Linked DNA regions of Homo sapiens. Each later gene encodes a partner of the first gene's protein in a complex. Each region holds a gene or a part of one and is shown on either strand. Other genes may lie near its edges.

Region 1 (7,883 bases):
TGTTGCCTGCAACAGAGGTTGGTCCGGCCATCGCACTCCAGGCCTCGCTTGCGAATGCGGTGCCTGCTGTCGCCCAGCCGAGCCTGCACCACCACAAAGGGCCGGTGCGACTCTTCGCCTGGGTCCACGAACACCGGCACCACGGCCAGCTCCTGGCAGCTGTCACACTGCACGTCTAGGTTGAGTCGCCGCTCGCCCCGCTCAAACAAGGCCTGGATGGCCTCCGTGAGTGGGAAGGTATGCCAGCCGCTGCGCTTGAGGTCCACCCTCTTCTCCACCATGTTCCACCTGTCACCGTGGCCCTGCTCCTGGAAGTACACTTTGACCCGCACCTTCCGCCGGCTGCCCTTCTCCAGGACGTAGGGCAGGAGTTTCAGGTAAAGCCACAGGCTGGCCTGGACCACAAACAGGTTCTGGTTGCCTTCGTTGGAGATGAAGAAGTATAGGCGGACCCGGGAGGAGGCGAGGCCATCTGCGGAAAAGGGGAAGGGCGAGCCAAGTTAATTCAAGGAGAACACAAGGCAATGGGGGAAACACACTCTCTGCTGCAGGATGCTGGAATGCAACTCGCCACACAGCTGGAAAACGTTACTGACCAGAAATACCATTCTTGGGGCCAGGGCCTCTGACTGTAACCTGGGAGAGGCAGAGAAAATCGTTTCTCATTGAGAAACCCGGACCAGGCTGGGGCTGGAGGGTCCGCGCCTATAAAATCCTGCCTCACCTCTCCCAGGCCAGGGCTCCCTGGAGACAGGCTGTCAGGCCTCAAAGCACAACAGAAGAACTTGTCAGGGGGCCAAGATCTTAACAAGTTGTTATGGGTATCTGTGAAATCTGAAAAACAAAACCAGGATCGCAGGGAGGATTTTGGGGTGGGTGGTTTTAGTAGGGCTTTTTTTTTTTTTTTTTTTTTTGGTTAACTTAGCGCATTGCAAAATCAAGCTGAGCCACCTACCGCCTCTTTCCAGTGTTTACCTAAGTATGATGTGATCCAACCCCCAGTGGAACCTCCACTGCAAACAAGCAGGCTCTGCTCAGGTTTCTGACATAGGAACGTGTGCTTTGCAGGCTGCAGAGCCTAGCCCTTATAGAATAGTTTCAAGGGACAGGACATTCAGCCTTAAAACTTGAGGTCCAATCCTTTGACAAGACTCTGGCTCCCTGTTAATGGCACGTTCAAAATCCCCAAGGAGTAGGGGAGCTGGCTAGTTAATTTTCTCAATAATTCAGCTCAACAAGAAGGAGGCTGTGCCAATCAAGAGATGACTCCCCTCTCATCCTACATTCCGGTGACCCTTGCCTCTGACAATCTACGTTTTTCTTTCCTTTTTTTTTTTTTTTTTTTTTTCAGGAAGAACAAATAATGAAACTCTGTGGTCAGGGCTGGTTTTATCAAACCTCCCACCATGCCCCTCCCAAGCCCCTACCTCAGGCCTCGCCTGGCTCCTCTAATAACACTGACATCTGACTTTGAAATGGGGGAAACTGCAGCCTTAAAAGCTGGTCTTGGACGAGCTGCCTGTGACCTGAATCTGTTATTTATAAGTCAAAGAGCTGGCTCCGTGAAACGGACCAGAAATATAACAGCCCCCGCTGTCATTTTGTGCCACCGGGACCAAAAGGCCTCCTCGACCTTCCAGAATCACATTTCTAACTCTGGGCCCCAAAGCACCTTTTAATCCGAGCCCTCTAATTGCATGGCGAGCTTTCCCTGACTCACTTTAGTGGACAGCTAAAACGGCAATGCATTTCTTTCTAAGCACAAACCAGCCCCGATTGTCTCTGCTTTTCTCCACACCCGGCCATGCAAAACTTTTCATCCCTTTTCATCCCCGGGCTGCCTGCTGCCTGGTGGGGTGGGGGGCATTTGCAGCCAGGGGCACAACCGCTCCCCCCACCGAGGCTCCCCGCTTGCCCCCGCCCTAACTGCACCGGGGCTTCCCCCTCTGCGACCTTCTCCGCAGTCCCCTCGGCACAAATGGGGCCGAGCTCCAGGCACAAAAGCCAGCCTGGCTCATTCAAGTCCTGAAAAGGACAGCGGAGTCGAAAGCACTTGCAGCATTTTGGCGCGGGCACATTTTTCTCCTTCTTTTAAAGTTCCGAAAGATTTTTCTCTCCCTGATTTTTATATTTAGACAGTGTTAGAGATTTGCAATCTGGGGCCGGGGGGGGGGGCGGATTCCAGAAAGGAGCCATACCCTTTGTTAACTACGACTCTGCCTCTCGGGCGAGGGGTCTGCTGCAGCTGCCAGGCAAGCCGAGAGGCACGGGGCTGTCCCCGAACCGCGGCTTTCTCTGTGTAAATGATGGACCTGTTGAGAAGCCTGCCTTCCGCCCGATTCCGGTGCCCACACAATCGGAAGAGAGGTTGCCTAGCTCTCCCCAGCGAGGCTTCAGCAATCCTGGCAAGCCCACGCCGCCGGTGATGGAAGCGGCCCCAGGGGCCTCTCACGCAGGCACACACACACACAGACACACACACAGATACACACACACTCTCTCTCTCCTCCGGCCCACGTATATCAACAAGCACACACATCTCCATCCACACTGCTAAGCCTACACTCCGATCGTGGGAAACAAAAACATTAAGCAATCACCAAGCAAGTGCCCGCAGAGCCAGGGCCGCGCGCATCTGCCGGGAGGGGGACGCGCGCCCAGAGGCGCTGGGGCCCGATTCCGGAGAGCAGGGGTGGAGGGCCAGGCGATCGGCGGCGGGGGGTTGAGGCAGCAGGCAAGGGTCTGCGGCCTGGGGGAAGAGGACTGCAACCCGGGCGGAGCGCGCAGGGCCACGGCCGAAGGAGCTCTGCCGGGAGTCCAGGCTGCCCCAGGGCGCGCGGGCTGCGGTGGCGGCGGTGGCAGCCGGAGCTAGCAAGGAGAGGGAGAGCGGGAGCGAGCGGGGACCGCGGCAGACAGCCGGAGGGCCGGACCCACCTGTCTCGGCGAAGCTGATGATTTCGGAAACGCGCTCCTGGCCGTCGGCGCCCGGGCTGGCGTGGCCGTCGAGGTGCGGGATCTCCACGCGGCCGTCCTCGCGCACCTTGCCCGCGTGCAGCTTGCGCAGGGCCGTGACCATGGCGGCCTTAGGCACGGCGTGCGTGATGTTGGGCCGGCCCCGCATCTGCAGGCGGCTCAAGATGTGCCGCTTCACCGCCTCCAGGAAGTCGCCGTCCACTCGGCCGAGCTCCTCTGGCCGCCGGAAGCCGCCGCACGACGTACAGGTGTCCTGCGAGCCACCCGGGGATCCGGGTGGCGGGGGTGGCGGCGGCGCGGCAGGCGTCGGCGGGGGCGTGGGTGAGCCCCAGGCCTCAGGCCCCAGCCAGCCGGCCGCCAGCAGCAGAAGGCAGGCGGCCCCCAGCGCCCGACCGGGCAGCCCGTCCATGGTGCGCCGCTGGCGACGAGGGCGCCCGCCGCGAGGCGAGCCGAGTCGAGCCGAGCGCAGGGCCGGGCTCCGGGCTCCGGGCGCGCCGCCCCGCCCCGCCCCCGCCCGCGCCCGCGCCCGCCCGGGCCTCCGCCCGCCCGCCCGCCGGGAGGGCTGCCGCCGGCTCGCAGGGGGAGGGGGCCGGCCGGGCCTCGGGGGTTCCCGCGCGGCAGGGAAGGGGCGCCGAGGGCCCCGGGGGCCCGAGGGGCGCGCCGGGCGGGGCGGAGGTCGCGGGTCACTGCCGCACGGGCGTCTCGGGGCGCCTCGGCATCTGCAGCCTTCTCCCCATCCTTTCCGCGTCGGGGGCCCCGCAGCCCCGGTTCGGGTGAAGCGAAAGCAGCGTCAGTGGGAGCGGCGGTTCGGCCGGCGGCTGGGGAAGGTGGCGAAAGAGCGGGTCCACGCAACTTGGCTGAGACGGAAGCGAAGGCGCTGGAGCCCCCCGGAGCGGAGCCGGGCGCGGCTTGGCGCGGCGCTGCGGCGGGCGCTGCGGCGGGGCCCCGCGCTCGCACCTGAGCGCCTCGCCCTCACTGCCTCGCGCCAGGAAGGGCCGCCGGCGGCGGAGACGGGCAGGTCGTCCTCGCCGCGGGCCGGCGGGCAGTGGCGCGGAGCAAGCTTGGTGCCCGGGAGAGCCGGCCGCGCGGGCCCGCTCACAGGCGGCGCCGAGCCCTCGGCCGCGGGCCCTGCAGTCCTCCCGGCGCGTCACACGGCAAAGTTGTCTCCAGGATCCCTGGGCGCCGCATCCACGGGCGGGCGGCCGCAGCGCGCTTCGCCGGGGCCTCTGCTCCGCCCGCCTCCTCGCAGCCTCCCTCCTTCCCTCCGCCTGCCTGCGCGGCCCGGCCGGGCGCGGGGCGCCGGGCGAGGAAGGCGAGGGGGAGGCAGGGCCCTTCTCGCTCCTGTCTCTTCTGCCTGCCGCGGCGGCGGCGAGGTCGGCTCGAGCGCCGAAAAGTCTCGCAGCGTCCCCGGGTGCAGTGCCCTCGCTCGCGCTCGTACTGGCACCCGCCGCAGGGCCGGGAGAGAGCGGGCGGGCGGCGGCGGCGTCCCCGCGCCGGGCCGCGGCACGGAGTGCGGAGCTCGCCGAGGAGGAGTTCTTCTCTTTGGTCTCTCTTCTTTTACTCTCCCCGTTTTTTCTCCCAAGGGGGAAAAAAGCCGCACAATCTCCGTATGTGCGCGCGCGTTGAGATAGACGTTGGCAGAAAAAAGGGGGGGAGGGAGGGTGTCGTCCTGCCCGTGCGAGAGGAGACGGTCCGTACCTCCCCGCTCGAGCTTCCCGGGGTGGGGGGAGGAGGAGAAAGCGGAATCTGTTCAGGTTGGGGCTGCCCGCTCCCCGCGCTCACCCCTGCTTCCCACCGCTTTTTTCCTTTCTGCCTTCCCGAGAAGGAGGGGCGAGCCGGCCCTCTCCCCTCCCCTCCTCTCCCCTCCCACCCCCCGCAATGCCGGGCTACTTTTGCTACCTCGAAACTTTCCCACCACGTGGGCGCCCCGGACCCTTGCCCAGCTGGGCGGCCGGCGGCACCGACGGGTTCCAGGCGCTGGACCCAGGCGCTCCTCCCGGCCCACTCCCGCCTCCCCGCCGCCGCGCAGGCCCTGCCTCTGTCCCAGCTGCCGCCCTCCCCAACCAGCAGAGGCGACTCCCGCCGCCGTGGCCGCCCCCGGCCCTCCCGGGGCGCTCCCTCGCGGCCGAGCCTGGCGAGGCGAGCGGGGTGCGGCGCGGCCTGGGATGCCAGAGGCAGGCTCCGCCGGCGGCTGCCGCTCTGGGGCTGCAGTGCCCTCACCCAGCTCCCCGGGCCGCCGTCGCACTGGCCGAGGCGTGGACCCTGCGAGCTGGAGGGCGGGAAGGCAGTAGCCACTGGAGGCCTGGCCAGCGGCTGCGTCTGCTGGGCCAGGAGGAACGCCCCGATTGTGCGGGATCCCAGGCGCGCGGCCCGGAGGCCACTGAGCCTCAGGGCTTGAGGGGCTGGCAGGGTCTACAGTACCCCACCCCCACCCCCACCCCCAGGGAATTCCCACTTTCGCCAGCAGACAAACTTTGGCTTCACTCAGACCCGGGTTCCACTCGGGCTCAGCCACTGCCAGCTTTGCAGGAGTGACCTTGGATAGAGTCCTCACCTTTCCTATCGCCTACCTCTTCTTCTGTGAAGGGACAGTAACACCTGTATCACAGGGGCTGGGTGGGAGGCCCAGCGAGGCAACTGGGCCAGGCTCTTCACACAACCCGATAAAGGATGGTTCTAGGGTCACCGTTCTCAGGCCACCGGACAAGGAACACTGTCAGTGGAAACTTGACTTTCAGACCCGTCCGGGGCCCCAAGTGCAATGCGCTCCTCTGTCCTTCTTCACGCCCCCACCCGGGTCTGGGGCCGCATGACAATGCCCACAGGACACGGAGCCGTACCCCGTTCCCTCGCAACGGGCTAGACTCAAGGCAGAAGCACGATGGGAGTTCATCCTGGCTTTCCCAGGATATTGGGGAATCGGGGACGTCGGAGGCGGAGCGTGGCCTCCTGCCCCCGCCTCCCACCGCCAGTCTCTCGGGCCAGCCCTGCCACCGTGGAGCTCGGCCGGGACCGCAGGCCCGCGGCGGCCTGCAAGTCTGGAAGCCGAGCGCCCCCTCCCTCCCAATCGGAGGAACCGACCCGAAGCTGGCGGGCAAAACTAGGGCGGGTGTGAGTTTGCCGACCGAAGTCAGAAGCAGGGATCCAGGAGGATCCCCGAGATGGCAGCCCTTCTGCCTCCTTAGAATCTCCACCAGGGCCAGAGTCTCTGCTCTCCCATCAGGTTGCCCTTGCCCTGCCTGGGAGCCTGTGGCCCGGGAGCTTCTGCCTCCTGGGAAGCACCTCCTGCATGGTGGCCTTGAGCCAGGCTGGCCACCTCCTGGTTTTGCTTGCATCTGCCCACCCGGCTGTCTCCGTCACCACAGCCACCAGCTACTTGACAAACTCATTCTCAGGCTCTCAGAGTCAGCCCAGTCTCTCCTCCTTGGCGAAGCCTTCCCTGACCCGGTTGTGCCCTGTATAGTTTTTTACCTGAGTGAGGCTCTCAGCCCAGTGCCTGGCTGTTATCTCCTCCCTTGTCTGTCTCCTGCATGGGAAGCAGACTTCCTGGGCCCTATCTGGTGCCAGACCTGGCAGATGATCAGGGAGAACTTATTGAAGTAATGATTGAATGAAGAAATGAGAGAAGCCATAAAGCCAATGAAGGAGTTCACAACCCCCACTCCCCAACACAAGCCCTCACAGGAGTGTTCCTGGCCAGCCCTTCTCATTGTCAGCCCCACCTGGGCTGGACAGGGCTGTGGAAAGGGAGAGAATATGGGTGAGGTTTCCCTGCCTTCAAGCCTTCAAGAAGATGCAGCATCCTGCCCATTGACCTGGCACCAGGGAGGGGCAAAAGCCGCCGTGTCCTTGCTGGTGGGAGGAGGGAAGAGGAGGTTGGGAGGAGGGTCCACACTTTGCTCCCCTAGTGGAGGAGCTGTCAGCCCCGCTGCCAGTCATCTGCTGGGAGGGAACTGGGTCAAGCGGTAGTCAGAAACCATCTGCTCGAGAAGCTGGGATTATCCTGCCCTCTGCTGATCCCCCAGCCCACGGGAGCCAAGGGTGTAAATTGAGTTCTTCCAAATCACCTTGTGTTTCTGGGGGGGGCTCCCCTTCCCCTCCTGAGGGGCAAGGACCTGTTCCTGTTGCTTCAAAGCCTCATTTAGCATCGAGCTTGGTTCTCCTTGTACTGGTAAACTCAGCCTTCCATCTCGGCTAAGGATGTGACTGCGTCTGTCAGTTTTGAATACAATAATGCACATCAGTGCCGTAGCCAACACCCTCCAAGCAGCTGCAAGACCAGGCCACCCTAATGCAGGATGCTGGCTCCCTGCTGCCATCAAGGAACTCCTTGGAGAAGGCAGGAAGGAAACATGGCGACACTGTAGATTCGGGCTTGCAGAAGTTGGAAGAGTACAGAGCACTTCCTCTCACGCACGCCTTTTTTTTTTTTTTTTTTTTTTTTTTTTTTTTGCATAACCCATCACTATCTGTTGAGGATGATGGAAACGTCCAAAAGTGACAAGGCAAACCATATACGTGAGCCTTAGGGCTCATTTGCAAAACAAATTGAGAACCCAGGTGCAGTTCTTGGCCCTGCAGCTCCTGCAAGGTGTGGAGTGGAGAGAAGGTCTTTGCACCACTAGGCACTAGGGTTCTGGCTGGAAGAAGGCCTTCGGCAGAGTTGGGCTTAGGGACCTGGCATGTATTTTTCTGTCACTGAAGCCACTCTTGCCAAGTTTCACCATCATATGTCACACCTCTCCAGAGCAACTCGATCTCTGCACAGAGGAGGTGCGTGCCAGGCCCAGTGCAGCAGTGTCCTGCTCAGCCAGCAGCCCTGGACACTGGCAATGGACGGCCTCAGCCTGGAGCCAGGTGGGAAGGAGAACCCAGCCAAGAGTGCCTCCTAGGGTTGGGGGTCAAGCTGG
Region 2 (7,168 bases), about 82 Mb from region 1:
TGGACAGGTTAAGTTTGTGATGAATATCAGACATCCAAGTAGATACGACAGATACACAGTTGGCTACATGCAACAGAATTTCAAGGAAAGAAGTCTGAGATAGAAATAAATTTGAAACTTGTACGCCTTTAGATGCTATTTAAAGCCATAAAACTGGATGAGATCACCAAGAGGGTGGGTGCAGACAGAGAAAAGGTCTAAAGACTGAATCCTGAAACACAACATTTAGCCATCAGGGACATAAGGAGGAACTATCAAAGTTGCTGGTGAGGTAGGAGAAAAATCAAGAGAGAATAGTATCTTAAAAGCCAAATGAAGAAAGTACTTGAAGGATGAAAAAAAAGGATTAAATTGGCTCATGCTACAGATAGGTCAAAACAAGAACTTGGAAATAAATCAAACAACAAGCAGGACATACGCACAGAAGTATTAAATATGGCATTGTTTATTAGAGAAGAAAATCGGAAACAACCTAAACATCTCCCAATATGAATTAAGTAAATAACAAATACACTCAATGGAATATCACACAATTATGAAAAAATGATAGTTATTAAGATCACATATACATGACTATATTATTCTATGTAAAAAAAACAGATATAATTAATAGATATTATAAAATCACAACCATATAAAAATACATGCTTTTTTTTTTTTTTTTGCCAGGCGTGGTGGCTCACGCCTGTAATCCCAGCACTTTGGGAGGCTGAGGCGGGCAGATCACGAGGTCAGGAGTTCGAGACCAGCCTGGCCAACACAGTGAAACTCCGTGTCTACTAAAAATACAAAAACTAGCCGGACATGGTGGCGCACACCTGTAGTCCCAGCTACTCGGGCGGCTGAGGCAGGAGAATCGCTTGAACCCAGGAGGTGGAGGTTGTCGTGAGCCGAGATCACGCCACTGTACTCCCACCTGGGCAACAAAGCGAGACTCCGTCTCAAAAAAAAAAAAAAAAAAAAAAGCATCTTTTTTTTAATTAGAAGAAAACATACCAAAACAAAAAGTGTTAGGGTTGTGTGAAGATTAATATTTTTTCTCTTAATTTTTCAAATGAAAACAAAAAAAAAAGCTTGCCCTAAAAGGTTAGCCTGGTGTGTCTACTACAATTACATAGATTTGCTCACAGACTATTCTTATTTACAAAAGCAAAGACTGAACACAGATTAATAATAATAGAAAGTCTTAACTATTTCCTCATCTAAATGAAACAAAAAACTGAAGAATTTGGATTACTGGCCAAATATTTATACATCCCTTCACACTTATCATTAACACATTTTGTTCTAAATTTTCCTATTTTGCACTAAACTTACTGGGGCAGAATGAAAGTACATGATCATGTACATTTTTGACACCAATTATAAGGGCAAACTACTGTCTTGAAGGAGAAAGGGGAAGTGAGATCTGGTTTTAAGAAACTGAAATTTCTTGGCCAGGTGCGGTGGCTCACGTCTGTAATCCCAGCACTCTGGGAGGCTGAGGCAGGCAGATTACCTGAGGTCGGGAGTTCGAGACCAGCCTGACCAGCATGGAGAAACCCCGTCTCTACTACAAATACAAAATTAGCTGGGTGTGGTAGTGCATGCCTGTAATCCCAGCTACTCAGGAGGCTGAGGCACAAGAATCACTTGTACCCGGGAGGTGAAGGTTGCAGTGAGCAGAGATCTTGCCATTGAACTCCAGCCTGGGCAACAAGAGCAAAACTCCGTCGAAAGAAAGAAAGAAAGAAAGAAAAGAAAGAAAAGAAAGAAAAAGAAAGAAAGAAAGAAAGAAAGAAAGAAAGAAAGAAAGAGAAAGAAAGAAAGAAAGAAACTGAAATTTCTCAACCTCCATTTGCATCTAACCTTCCAGAAAGAGATGTGGATCAAATACCTAACTGTCCCAAATACCTAACTCCATCTAAAATTCTTAGGCCAATGCCTCTGGCACAATACTTTATCATGTCTCATAATTTTTCCACCAAGTCCACCGTCGACACATTTAAGACGTGAATGATTGCACACATTTTGCACTATATCTTGATAATTTGGGTAATGTATTTTAAACGTTACTGATGCACAAGGCAGGGTTAAGGTACAGTGTTGGGCATTGTGATTCTAGGCATGCATATAATCTTTCATATCAGTGTTTTTTTGTTTTGTTTTGTTTTTTGAGATGGAGTTTCACTCTTTTGCCAAGGCTGGAGTAAAGTGGCACAATCTTGGCTCACTGCAACCTCTGCCTACTGGGTTCAAGTGATTCTCCTGCCTCAGCCTCCCAAGTAGCTGGGATTATAGGCGCCCGCCACCACGCCCGGGTAATTTTTGTATTTTTAGTAGAGATGGGGTTTCACCATGTTGGCCAGGCTGGTCTCAAACTCCTAACGTCAGTTGATCCACCAGCCTCGGCCTCCCAAAGTGCTAGGATTACAGGTATGAGCCACCAGGCCCAGCCAATATTAGTGCTTTTGAAAATAGTAATTTTTTTTTTTTTGAGATGGAGTCTCGCCCTGTCACCCAGGCTGGAGTGCAGTGGTACGATCTCGGCTCACTGCAACCTCCGCCTCCCAGGTTCAAGTGATTCTCCTACCTCAGCTTCCTGAGTAGCTAGGATTACAGGCATGCACCACCACGCGTGGCTAATTTTGTTTTTTTCTTTTTTTTTTTTTTTTGACAGAGTTTCGCTCTTGTTGCCCAGGCTGGAGTGCAAAGGCACAACCTCGGCTCACCACAACCTCCGCTTCCCAGGTTCAAGCGATGCCTCAGCCTCCCGAGTAGCTGGGATTACAGGCATGTGCCACCACACCCGGCTAATTTTGTATTTTTAGTAGAGACAGGGTTTCACCACGTTGGCCGGGTTGGTCTCGAACTCCTGACTTCAGGTGATCAGCCCACCTTGGCCTCCCAAAGTGCTGGGATTACAAGCGTGAGCCATGGCAACTGGCCTAATTTTGTATTTTAGTAGAGACGGGGTTTCACCACGTTAGTCAGGCTGGTCTCAAACTCCTGACCTCAGGTTATCAGCCCGCCTTGGCTTCCCAAAGTGCTGGGATTATAGGTGTGAGCCACAGCTCCCAGCCAAATTTTTGTATTTTTTGTACAGCAGGGCTGGTCTCGAAATCCTGACCTCAAGTGATCCGCCTGCCTTGGCCTCCCCAAGTGCCAGGATTACAGAGTAAGCCACTTCGCCCAGGCCACACTGCAAATTTTTAAAAGGAAAAGATTTTGGGTAATTGCTTAATGCACAAATTAAGAAATGTTTGTTCCTAATGTTTACCAGATTAAGCAATAAAAGATATAGATTAAGTAGTAATTACCACAAAAAGTAGAAATAAAGTTATAGAACTTGAGAGTTAGAAAGAATCTTAGATCCAGTAGTTCTCAAAGGTACCTAAAATTTACTGGCTGATGAGGGCATCAAAGGCAGATTCCCAGGCTCGTTGTCCAGAGATTTGGATTCAGTAGGTCTAGTGGGGTACCCATGAATCTGTATTTCAAAATGATCAAGTACAACCCCATATTATTACAAGTAAGAAAACTATGTTAAGTAACCTATTTGCCCGGAATCATATAGAATCTAGGTCTCATTAACTCCCAACAGTGGTCTTCCCACTATACCTCTTAAACTACATACTTTATAGTTGAAGGAACTAGGACAAAGAAAAAGTTATTGGTGTGTTATTTGAGTCAATAAACAACCCTAGAATATTCCTGGTTGAAATTCCTATTTATTATTCATTCACTAAGTATTTCTTAAATGTCTACTAAATTATAAAACTAATCAGACATGAATACTGTCCTCTGGAAGCAATTATCAGTAGGAAGGACAAGGCAAATACATAAAACTGATACCTGGTCAGGTGCGGTAGCTCACACCTGTAATCCCAACACTTTGGGAGGCCAAGGTGGGTGGATCAGCTGAGGTAAGGAGTTTGAGACCAGCCTGGCCAACATGGTGAAACCCCATCTCTACTAAAAATAAAAAAATTTCGGGTGTGGTGGCTCACACCTGTAATCCCAGCACTTTGGGAGGCCAGGGCAGGTGGATCACAAGATCAGGAGTTCGAGACCGGCCTGGCTAGCATAGTGAAACCCCATCTCTACTAAAAATACAAAAATTAACCAGGCATGATGGTGCACACCTATAATCCCAGCTACTCGGGAGGCTGAGGCAGGAGAATGGCTTGAACCTGGGAGGTGGAGGTTGTAATGAGTCGAGATCGTGCCACTCCACTCCAGGCTGTGTGACAGAGCAAGACTCCATCTCAAAAAAAAAAAAAAAAAAACAAAAACAAAAACTGATATCCAGCAGCACAGCAATCTATGAGTAGGTGCCAAAATAAGTGGTGTGGCCAATTATAAAATTAACTGATTCACACAGATTCCACTCAGTATTTTTTTAATGGTTAGAATTTACCCATTAGAGATCAATATTCAATTTCTTCTCTTTTTGTTAAAAAAAAAACTGGCCTTTAATGAAGGAAAGGTTTTGTCTTGTGTGAACAGTTATCTCTCACCTCACTACTCATCCACATCAATACCACTACTATCACATCATCCCACATGCCAGAATAGCTTTTGTAGAGACCAAAGTTTATATCATTTTAATGCAAAAAACTAATTAAGAGGTTGGCCCTCTTCAAAGGGTAAGAAAAGCCTCCCTTCTGGACCATCTTACTGGTTATATGTGGTCTACTGAGAATTTCAATTCTTCGTTCTTCTGCAATAGTACTATATATCCAAATATTACATTAGCCTCATCACAGGCAAAGTGTACTTTGATACCTCTTGTTTCTGAGCTTAGCCTAGCCATATGACTCGGTCAGCCAATGGGATGTTAGGAGAGCAGAGTCTGGAAATGTGCTGGTAGGGTTGGGCTTGGCCTCTTGCACTTCTGCCAATGCCATGACACAAGCCTCCCCCAGATAGATGTTACTTCTCCCTCTAGCCTGGACCCCAGAAAGAGACACATGGAGCAGAATAAATGCCTATTGTTGCATGCCACTAAGATTTTGTGGTTGCCAATAATTACACAGCAAAATGTCACTGAATCACCATATTTAAGAAATCCAGCCCAGGCGTGGTGGCTCATGCCTATAATCCCAGCACTTTCGGAGGCAGAGGCAGGCAGATCACGAGGTCAGGAGTTTGAGATCAGCCTGGCCAATATGGTAAAACCACGTCTCTACTAAAAATACAAAAATTAGCCGGGTGTGGTGGTGCACACCTGTAGTCCCAGCTACTTGGGAGGCTGAGGCAGAAGAATCACTTGAACCCGGGAGGCAGAGGTTGCAGTGAGCTGAGATGGCGCCACTGCACTCCAGTCTGGGTGACCGAGCCAGACTCTGTCTCAAAAAAAAAAAAAAAAAAAAAAAAAAAGAAAGAAAGAAATCCAGGGCCAGGGCCAGGGCCAGGGCCAGGGCCAGGGCCAGGCACAGTGGCCCACACCTATAATCCCAGCATTTTGGGAGGCCGAGGCGGGCAGATCACCTGAGATCAGGAGTTCAAGACCAGCCTGACCAACATGGAGAAACCCTGTCTCTACTAACAATACAAAATTAGCCAGGAGTGGTGGCACATGCCTGTAATCCCAGCTACCCGAGAGGCTGAGGCAGAATTGCTTGAACCCGGGAGGTGGAGGTTGCAGTGAGCCGAGATCACACCATTGCACTCCAGCCTGGGCAACAAGAGCAAAACTCAAAAAAAAAAAAAAAAAGAAAGAAATCCAAACAATCAGGACTGATGATATAAAGCAGTGCTTCTCAAGCACCTGCTTGAGTGAGACTTTGCGGGGGTTCTCCCAGAGAGATTCATTCAGTACATCTGGACTATAGGGCCAAAAATATGCATTTTTATCAAGAACCCCAGGTAATTCTGTTGCAGTACCCACACTTTGAGAAAAACTAAAATGAAGATTACTAAACTTCAGTTACTCAGTAATATTCACTAACATTAGATTAATCTTACTTTATATAATGTGTGTGTTCCTCAAGAGATGTATGTAAAATTGCAATCTAATCAAGTGAATTATTTAAAACGCATTACAGAAGTTGACCTTTAAATAATAGCTGTGTTGTATTCTTTTATTAAGAATTCATTCATAAACCAAGCCAGCACATCTTATTTTTCATAAGTTGTTTTTTTTTTTGGGGGGGGCATAGAAAATGTTCTAAGAATTAGGCGGGGTGTGGTGGCTCATGCCTGTAATCCCAGCACTTTGGGAGGCCGAGGCAGGTGGATCACGAGGTCAGGAGTTCGAAACCACCCTGCCAAAATGGTGAAACCCCGTCTCCACTAAAAATACAAAAAATAAAAATAAATTAGCTGGGCATGGTGGTGGGCTCCCGTAATCTCAGCTAGTCTGGAGGCTGAGGCAGGAGAACCACTTGCGCCTGGGAGGCGGAAGTTGTGGTGAGCCAGGGTCGTGCCACTGCACTCCAGCCTGGGCGACAGAGTGATACTCTGTCTGAACAAAAAAGAAAGAAAGAAAGAAAGAAAGAAAGAAAATGTTCTAAGAATTAAGGAGTCCAAGAACTCAATAAGTGAGAAAGAGGGAATCAAAAGAAATGATTTATCCATGACCCCGAAAAAGGATGTGCTATCAATCAGTCTTCTAGGATTTATTTTCCTGTTCAGCTGCACCATTTGCGCCTGTCGAGTTAACATCACTGCATCTGTGTAACCCAAATCCACACAGGCCCTCTCTAATCAGCTTGCACTTAATGAAGCTGCACTAGCCACTTCAATATTAGGCCAAGCAAAGTTTTACATGTTCAGAACTACGACATTTGCATAACCACTGCTGCACTAACACCTTGTAAGTGTCCCTGCTTCTTTACAAAGGTTGATCTGGTGAAGGCTAATTACTCCATCTCATATATCCAATAAGATGAGAAGTTGTTGCTGCTAGTGCTGCTGTTACCATTAATGTGGTATGTGAGGGCGCACACTATAATCCTGGCTCCATAATTTACTGACTGTGTGGTGAGTTATTCAAATTCTCTGTACTTTACTCTCCCTCTATGGAAAAGGGGAATGATAATAACCTACAACATAGAATTGTCATGAAGACGAAATGAAAAAATATATGTAAAGTTATTTGAATAGCTGATGGTGCATGGCAGGCACTTAATAAATACTAGCTATTATCATTACTGTTACAGGTCTGAAATCCAGCTTCACAAAT

The links. Proteins that work in one complex are often made in the same cells at the same time.
Region 2: the proteins of INHBB (region 1) and BMPR2 are in contact, whole or in part, in a crystal structure (PDB 7U5O), measured with the Homo sapiens proteins. Residues at the interface, in NP_002184.2 of Homo sapiens: Phe309, Asn318, Asp319, Ile322, Ala323, Pro324, Gly326, Tyr327, Tyr328, Thr379, Met380, Ser381, Met382, Leu383, Phe385, Asp386, Asn390, Ile391, Val392, Lys393, Asp395, Ile400; in NP_001195.2 of Homo sapiens: Tyr40, Tyr67, Leu69, Val80, Lys81, Trp85, Ser86, His87, Ile88, Gly89, Asp90, Gln92, Ile108, Gln109, Tyr113, Phe115.

The regions. Positions count from the first base shown.
Region 1 is NC_000002.12:120,341,688-120,349,570, reverse strand, and holds the start of INHBB (inhibin beta B chain preproprotein), read right to left. Parts: upstream 3,436-7,883; 5' UTR 3,383-3,435; coding exon 2,935-3,382; intron 473-2,934; coding exon 1-472. Other genes in the region: translation initiation factor IF-2-like, read right to left, coding at 3,657-4,684, 5,544-5,649. UniProt on the Homo sapiens protein: Inhibins and activins inhibit and activate, respectively, the secretion of follitropin by the pituitary gland.
Region 2 is NC_000002.12:202,379,159-202,386,326, reverse strand, and holds part of BMPR2 (bone morphogenetic protein receptor type-2 precursor), read right to left. Parts: intron 1-7,168. UniProt on the Homo sapiens protein: On ligand binding, forms a receptor complex consisting of two type II and two type I transmembrane serine/threonine kinases.